2 linked regions of the Homo sapiens genome follow. The protein of the gene in region 2 purifies or fractionates together with the protein of the main gene of each other region. This does not show direct contact. Each region holds a gene or a part of one and is shown on either strand. Other genes may lie near its edges.

Evidence for each region. Proteins that work in one complex are often made in the same cells at the same time.
Region 1: the proteins of TAF8 (region 2) and MEF2A purify together in Homo sapiens (affinity purification with western blotting, with the first as the bait; one study listed by BioGRID). This does not show direct contact.

What each region holds. Positions count from the first base shown.
Region 1 is NC_000015.10:99,572,484-99,575,983, reverse strand, and holds part of MEF2A (myocyte-specific enhancer factor 2A), read right to left. Parts: intron 1-3,500. UniProt on the Homo sapiens protein: Transcriptional activator which binds specifically to the MEF2 element, 5'-YTA[AT](4)TAR-3', found in numerous muscle-specific genes. Also involved in the activation of numerous growth factor- and stress-induced genes.
Region 2 is NC_000006.12:42,064,024-42,067,523, reverse strand, and holds part of TAF8 (transcription initiation factor TFIID subunit 8), read right to left. Parts: intron 1,213-3,500; coding exon 1,065-1,212; intron 1-1,064. UniProt on the Homo sapiens protein: The TFIID basal transcription factor complex plays a major role in the initiation of RNA polymerase II (Pol II)-dependent transcription.

The DNA of each region.
Region 1 (3,500 bases), on a different chromosome or scaffold from region 2:
ACAAATGATGGGGGCATGTTAAAACAACCAATGAGTTAATGTGAAGAAGTTTCCACTAACCAAATGTGGGTTAATTTGGAACATCAAAATGAATACTGGCAGGTAATAGAAAACAACCTACTTAATAAAAAAGAATCCATTATATCATATTGATATCAAAATGAATAGGACAAGGTCTTCTTTAAAACAGACTAGAATGCCCACTAATAAATGGAGAGGGAACGATGGTTAGAAAAACACTATTTTGCAATTCTGTGTAGTAAGTGATTCAGGCAAGAGTAATCAATGAATGCTAAAACCATTCTGTAAGCGTTTGGAGGAGGAAATTTTCAGTCTCCAAGTGTCTCCAACAGATTATTCAGTAATAACAAAGGGGACTATGATACCTTTTGTAATAGAGAAAACTAGCAGGTAAAACCTTAACTAAGTGGTCCAAATAAACATCAACAACATGGTCAAAATGACACCGTACTGCCTCATGATGTGATGCACTGAGGATATACCATCACTTACATGGGATTTTTGCCAAAAATGCAAAACCTGAATCTAATTACAAAGAAGCACCTGGACAAATCCAAACTGATGGACATCCTACAAAACAAAGGGTCTGTACTCTACAAAACCCAAAAATTAAAAAGGCTGAAGAACTGTTTCAGATTAAACAATACAAGGGATATAATTAAAATGCATTGTATAATATTGGAATGGGAAAAATATTAAAGGATATTATTGACACTATGGGAAAAATTTCAACATGAACTGTACATTAAACAATAAGATCAATATTAAATTTCTTGAATCCCCCATACTAATGTAAGAATATGCCCTTATTAGGAGATATCAGTTGAAGTATTTAGGGGTAAGGGAACTTGATGTGTGCAACCTCCTCTCAAATGGTTCAACAATAAAAATAATTTTAATAGGAAGAGAACAAAAAAGAGAAAAAAAGGAGATGAGGAAAAAGATCTACACAGTGGATTCTTGATATTATATAACAATGCCTGATATGTTAATGATAATAACATGTCAGGTTTCCTTGTTAGAAATGTACACAGTGCATTAACATAGCATTTCCATCTATCCCTGTATATAACCTGAATTTAATCATACCTGTGATGTTTTGCCACTGACTTTAACTAAATAAACTTGCATCTTTGACATATTCTAGACCAGAGGTCCCCACCCCGGGGCCATAGATCAGTACCAGTCCATGGCCTGTTAGGAATGGGGCCACACAGCAAGAGATGAGCGGCATGCCAGTGAGTGAACCTTCATCTGTATTTACAGCCGCTCCCCGTCGCTTGCATTACCACCTGAGCTCCACCTCCTGTCAGATCAACGGCAACACTTAATTATCACAGAAGCACAAACCCCACTGTGAACCACACATGCAAAGGATCTAGGTTGTGCACTCCTTATGAGAATCTAATGCCTGATGAGATCATCAGTCACTGTCTCCCATCACCCCAAGATGGGACCCTCTAGTAGCAGGAAAACAAGCTCTGGGCTCCCACTGATTCTACATTATGGTGAGTTGTATAAGTATTTCATCACATATTACAATGTAATAATAATGGAAAATAAAGTGTACAATAAATGTAATGTGCTTGAATCATTTTGAAACCATCCCCTCCCCCCACCATTCATGGAAAAATTGTCTTCCACGAAACTGGTCCCTGGTGCCAAAAAGGCTGGTAATAGCTGCTCTAGGCAGAAGATGTAATCAAGGAGTTTCAATCTGTAAATAAAATAATAATCTCTGTTTCCAGACTTTGTACCCACTCTGCAAATATAAAAAGAGAGCAAGAACGACAAAGCAAATGTGGTACATGGTAACAACTGGTGAATCTGCGGCAGATATAAATGGGAGTTCATTGTACTATTCTTGTAACTTTTCTCTAGGTTTGATTTTTTTCCGAAATAAATTTAAAAAAAAAAATCTGTCAACCCTAAAACTGTACTTTGTGGAAATTAAGCCATTTCTGAAAGAAAACAAAAACAAAACCTTAACTCCTAGATTCTTCTCTCCCTTTCTCTTCGTAATCCATACCATCAATTAGGTTTAACACCATTAATAAAAAGGTTTTCAGTATCAAAATAAACATTTTGCCAAAGGAATCCCCAATTTACAAATGGGATATGTTCCAAAAGCCTATTTGTAAGTCAGCTATTTAGAATGGGGAATGACTTTCACTATTACAAATGGTGACTGGGTTCCTAATGTTGGCTACAAAAGTTCTTTGATGTATTTTCATTAGCAATACAGCTGAATTAGTAATGTATTTCATGTATACTGTGTTAATTTCCATAAGGTTCCCCCCTCAACTTGGAGCTTTTCTATAAACATATGAAATTAGTTGGATAAGCTAGAGGGAAGTAATAGGGCCAGAAGGGATGTTGGTTAGTAATGAACAACAGAGATATGCATTTCAAACTGGAAATACTTCCCTCAGACAAGATGGCTACTCAGTGCCCAGCAAGAAAGCAAAATAGAATCTGAGGAAATGCCCCTTGTGCTCCACAGCTCTCAAATTCCTGCCCTTAGAATAATGACCGTATGTTAATAGAAAACACATAAAGTAAGATTATAATTTGGAAAGTACCTTTATGATTTTTAAAGTGTGATTTGGGAAAACTGGTCTGTGGTTGGTTATTTCCGTTGATTAGGACAACTTCTTTTTTTTTTTTTTTTTTTTTGAGACGGAGTCTCGCTGTTGCCCAGGCTGGAGTGCAGTGGCGCGATCTTGGCTCACTGCAGGCTCCGCCTCCCAGGGTTCACGCCATTCTCCTGCCTCAGCCTCCCGCATAGCTGGGACTACTGGTGCCCACCACCACGCCCGGCTAATTTTTTGTATTTTTAGTAGAGATGGGGTTTCACTGTGTTAGCCAGGATGGTCTCGATCTCCTGACCTCGTGAATCGCCCGCCTCGGCCTCCCAAAGTGCTGGGATTACAGGCGTGAGCCACCGCGCCCGGCCGATTAGGACAACTTCTACTCAATTCAACATTTACTGAGAATTCACTATATCTACTATAATAGGTTGGTTGGTAGATACTGAGCACACAAAAGAGCCAGCTGGTCCTTGACATAGCAATTCAGCCTAATAGAAGACAGTGACATCAATTATATTCAAATAATCAAATAATATTCTAAATACCTAACATGGGATTTACTCTACAAATAGTGCATGTATCATGGGCTTTAGAAGCACACAAGAGCAAGAGCAAAAAACTTTTGTCTAGGAGATTAAAACTGGTATCACAGATGACATCTGAGCTAAGACTTAAAGGATAAGTAGTTCAATAACTATAACTATGTGTGCAAGACAGCATTCCAATCATTGGCAAAAAACAGGAACAAAGATACAGAAGCATCAAATATTTACTATCTTCCAAATGCCAGGCGGCATGCTAATGCCTGGGGATACAGCTAAGAGTAAGATGAACAAGGCCTCTGCCTTTATGGAGTTTACATTCAGGTAATGGACAAATACCATAAAT
Region 2 (3,500 bases):
TCTAGAATTGGCTGGGTGTGGTGGCTCATGCCTATAATCCCAGCACTTTGGGAGGCTGAGGCAGGCAGATCACTTGAGCTCAGGAGTTCAAGACCAACCTGGCCAACTGGGTGAAACCCCGTCTCTACTAAAAATACAAAAAATTAGCTGGGTGTGGTGGCTCCTGCCTGTAGTCCCAGCTACTTGCTGAAGCAGAAGAATCGCTGGAACCCGGGAGGCGGAGGTTGCAGTGAGCAGAGATTGCGCCACTGTATTCCAGGCTGGATGACAAAGCAAGACTCTGTCTCAAAAAAACCCACAAAAACTCCAGAATTATTTTTGCTGTGGGTCAGATGTGGGGTCCTGCAGTAAGAGCTAGGTTTGAATGATGTCTACTAGCCATGTTCCTTGAGGAAGTGACTTCATTTCTCTTCTCTTGTGCCTCATTGAAGGGTTCCTATGAAGGTAGTGATATATCAGTTCCCAACTCAGAGGCTCACAAGAGGATTTAATGAGATAATGTATGGGAAATGATGAGCACAGTATCTGGCACTTAACAACCGGCAGCTGCTGTTATTCCAGAGCCAGGCACACAGCGGGCGTTCCACAGGAGCTTGCTGAATGAATGAATCACCCAAACCAACCTCCCTCACTCACATTTGTAAAAACTGAGGTCTTTGGAAATGAAGTAGCTTGGTCAACATGGCCAAATAGTGCTGAGATGCCAAGTTAAATGAGGTGGGACCTACGAGGGAACATCACGATGGGCAACTGGCCCCTGATGCCAATGTTCTTCTACTACCTGGGCTGCCACCAAGTGTCTCTGATGCCTAGGCCTAGGCTACCCTCAAGGTAACTCTATGGACCTCAAGCAGCCAGTCCCAACAGAGACCATTACTGTTTTGGAGTCGTCAGTTAAGGACAGACTCTTAAGACCTGGGGAAGGGAGCCAGAAATCTGAGAGGCAAGCTGTACCCAAGGGAAGGACAAAAGCTTATTTGTTTCTTCCTACCATGCTGAGAGAAAGAAAAGATAATGTGAGTGTTTCAAATAAGACAGGGTCCACACAGTGGGGCAACTCTCACATGGAAATGTGCTGACGTCATCTTTGAAAAGACTCTGAGTCTCGCCTGTCTTGGCCATGAAACGGGTAAGTGCCCGCTCCACATCGCGCCTCTGGGATGCAGCCTTCTCCCGCAGGACCTGGTAGTCTGACACGGGCTCACGGTACGTCTACGAAGAGAGCAGCAAAGACACTGGGGTGATGCCGAAGTATCATTCTGCTTTCATCAGCTCCCTGGCTTGCTGTTGCTATGCCCTGTTCTCTAAAATGACCCAATACCAGGCCAGGCACAGTGGCTCACACCTGTAATCCCAGCACTTTGGGAGGCCAAGGCTGGTGGATCACCTGAGATCAGGAGTTTGAGACCAGCCTGGCCAACATAACGAAACCCCGTCTCTACCAAAAATACAAAAATTAGCTGGGTGTGGTGGTGGGCACCAGTAATCCCAGCTACTTGGGAGGCTGAGGCAGGAGAATCGCTTGAACCCAGGAGGCGGAGGTTGCAGTGAGCCGAGACTGCATCATTGCACTCCAGCCTGTGCAGCAGGAGCGAGACTCTGTCTCAAAAAATAAATAAATAAATAAAATTAAATTAAATGACCCAATACTATTAGTTAGAGCCAAGATCACCAAAGCACAGTAGAAAGGTGGAAAAACAATGTAACTACATTAATATTCATTTCTAATTAAAAATTAAGAAATGTACAAATATTTACTGTAGAGATTGTCTTGGAGCCTTCATTCAGCTCCCATGACAGATGGTCTCGGGTCTAAGAGACGCATCGTGAAGAAAGAGTGGGAGTGCCCCCAGGGAAGCCCTGATGGGGACCACAGGTTCCATCAGCGCAATGTGACCTCCTGCAGTATGGGAGTGGCTGCCTATGTGGACTTGTGGATTATACCATCCCATCTTATTAAATCAATCCTCACAATATGGATACATTGTTCCAAAAAGATTCCCTCAAAGAAAGAGAGGCTGAAGATCTTATTATACGTGCAAGTGACCAAGAAAACGGCAGGCTGCTACTCTTCCTCCTAATTATGAGCTTGCTGGCAATCAAGTTATGGAGTGAAAATGATTGAGATCAGAATGAGAAATGAGCCAAAACTTTTTATTTTATTATTTTTATTTTTTGGAGACAGAGTCTTGCTCTGTCACCCAGGCTGGAGTGCAGTGGCGCCATCTCAGCTCACTGCAACCTCCACCTCCTGGGTTCAAGCGATTCTCCTGCCTCAGACTCCTGAGTAGCTGGGACTACAGGCACGTGCCACCATGCCCAGCTAATTTTTGTATTTTTAGTAGAGATGGGGTTTCATCATGTTGGCCAGGCTGGTCTCGAACTCCTGACCTCAGATGATCCACCCACCTTGGCCTCCCAAAGTGCTGGGATTACAGGTGTGAGTCACCGCGCCCAGCCGGAAAACATTTTAATTGGTAATGGCAACGGTGACATTTTAACAACGACCAATAAAGTAACTACTCTTCATGATACTGAGATACCATTTTTTTTTTTTTTTTTTTTTTGAGACAGAGTCTTGCTCTGTCACCCAGGCTGGAGTGCAGTGGCGGGATCTCTGCTCACTGCAAGCTCCGCCCCCCGGGTGCATGCCATTCTCCTGCCTCAGCCTCCCGAGTAGCTGGGACTACAGACGCCTGCCACCACTCCTGGCTAATTTTTTTGTATTTTTAGTAGAGACGGGTTTCACTGTGTTTGCCAGGATGGTCTCGATCTCCTGACCTTGTGATCCACCCGCCTCAGCCTCCCAAAGTGCTGGGATTACAGGCTGAGATAGCATTTTTAAAGAAGGCACCTGGAAATGTTTCTTTGTTGTCACCATCAGTTCAAGTGTGTCACCTATACAGTTCTCACATCTGTACTTAAACAAAGAAACAGAATTTTCTGACGTGTTAAAAATCTTCCCAAAAGGCTGGGTGTGGTGGCTCACACCTGTAATCCCAGCACTTTGGGAGGCCGAGGCGGATAGATTACCTGAGGTCAGGAGTTTGAGACTAGCCTGGTCAACATGGTAACACCCGGTCTCTACTAAAAATACAAAAATTAGCCAGGCGTGGTGGTGGGCACCTGTAATCCCAACTACTTGGGGGAGGCTGAGACATGAGAATCGCTTGAACCTGGGAGACAGAGGTTGAAGTGAGCCGAGATCACACCACTGCACTCCAGCCTGGGGGACTGAGCGAGACTCTGTCCACCCCCCACAAAAAAACCCCAAAACTTCCCAATAATAAAATGAGTGGATTTTGAACATATTGTACTTGTTAAAAACATTAAAATGCAAAATCTTGTAATGATTCCTAAGACAACTTTTGGCACTCAATAAATTAGAAATTTAATAGAAAATTTTCAACCAAATTCTTTGGATAATGAGTAAATGAGGATGAAAAAAATTAGTTTTATGATTTATTAAGAGCAGCCAATGATGTTACATATGTTTGTGA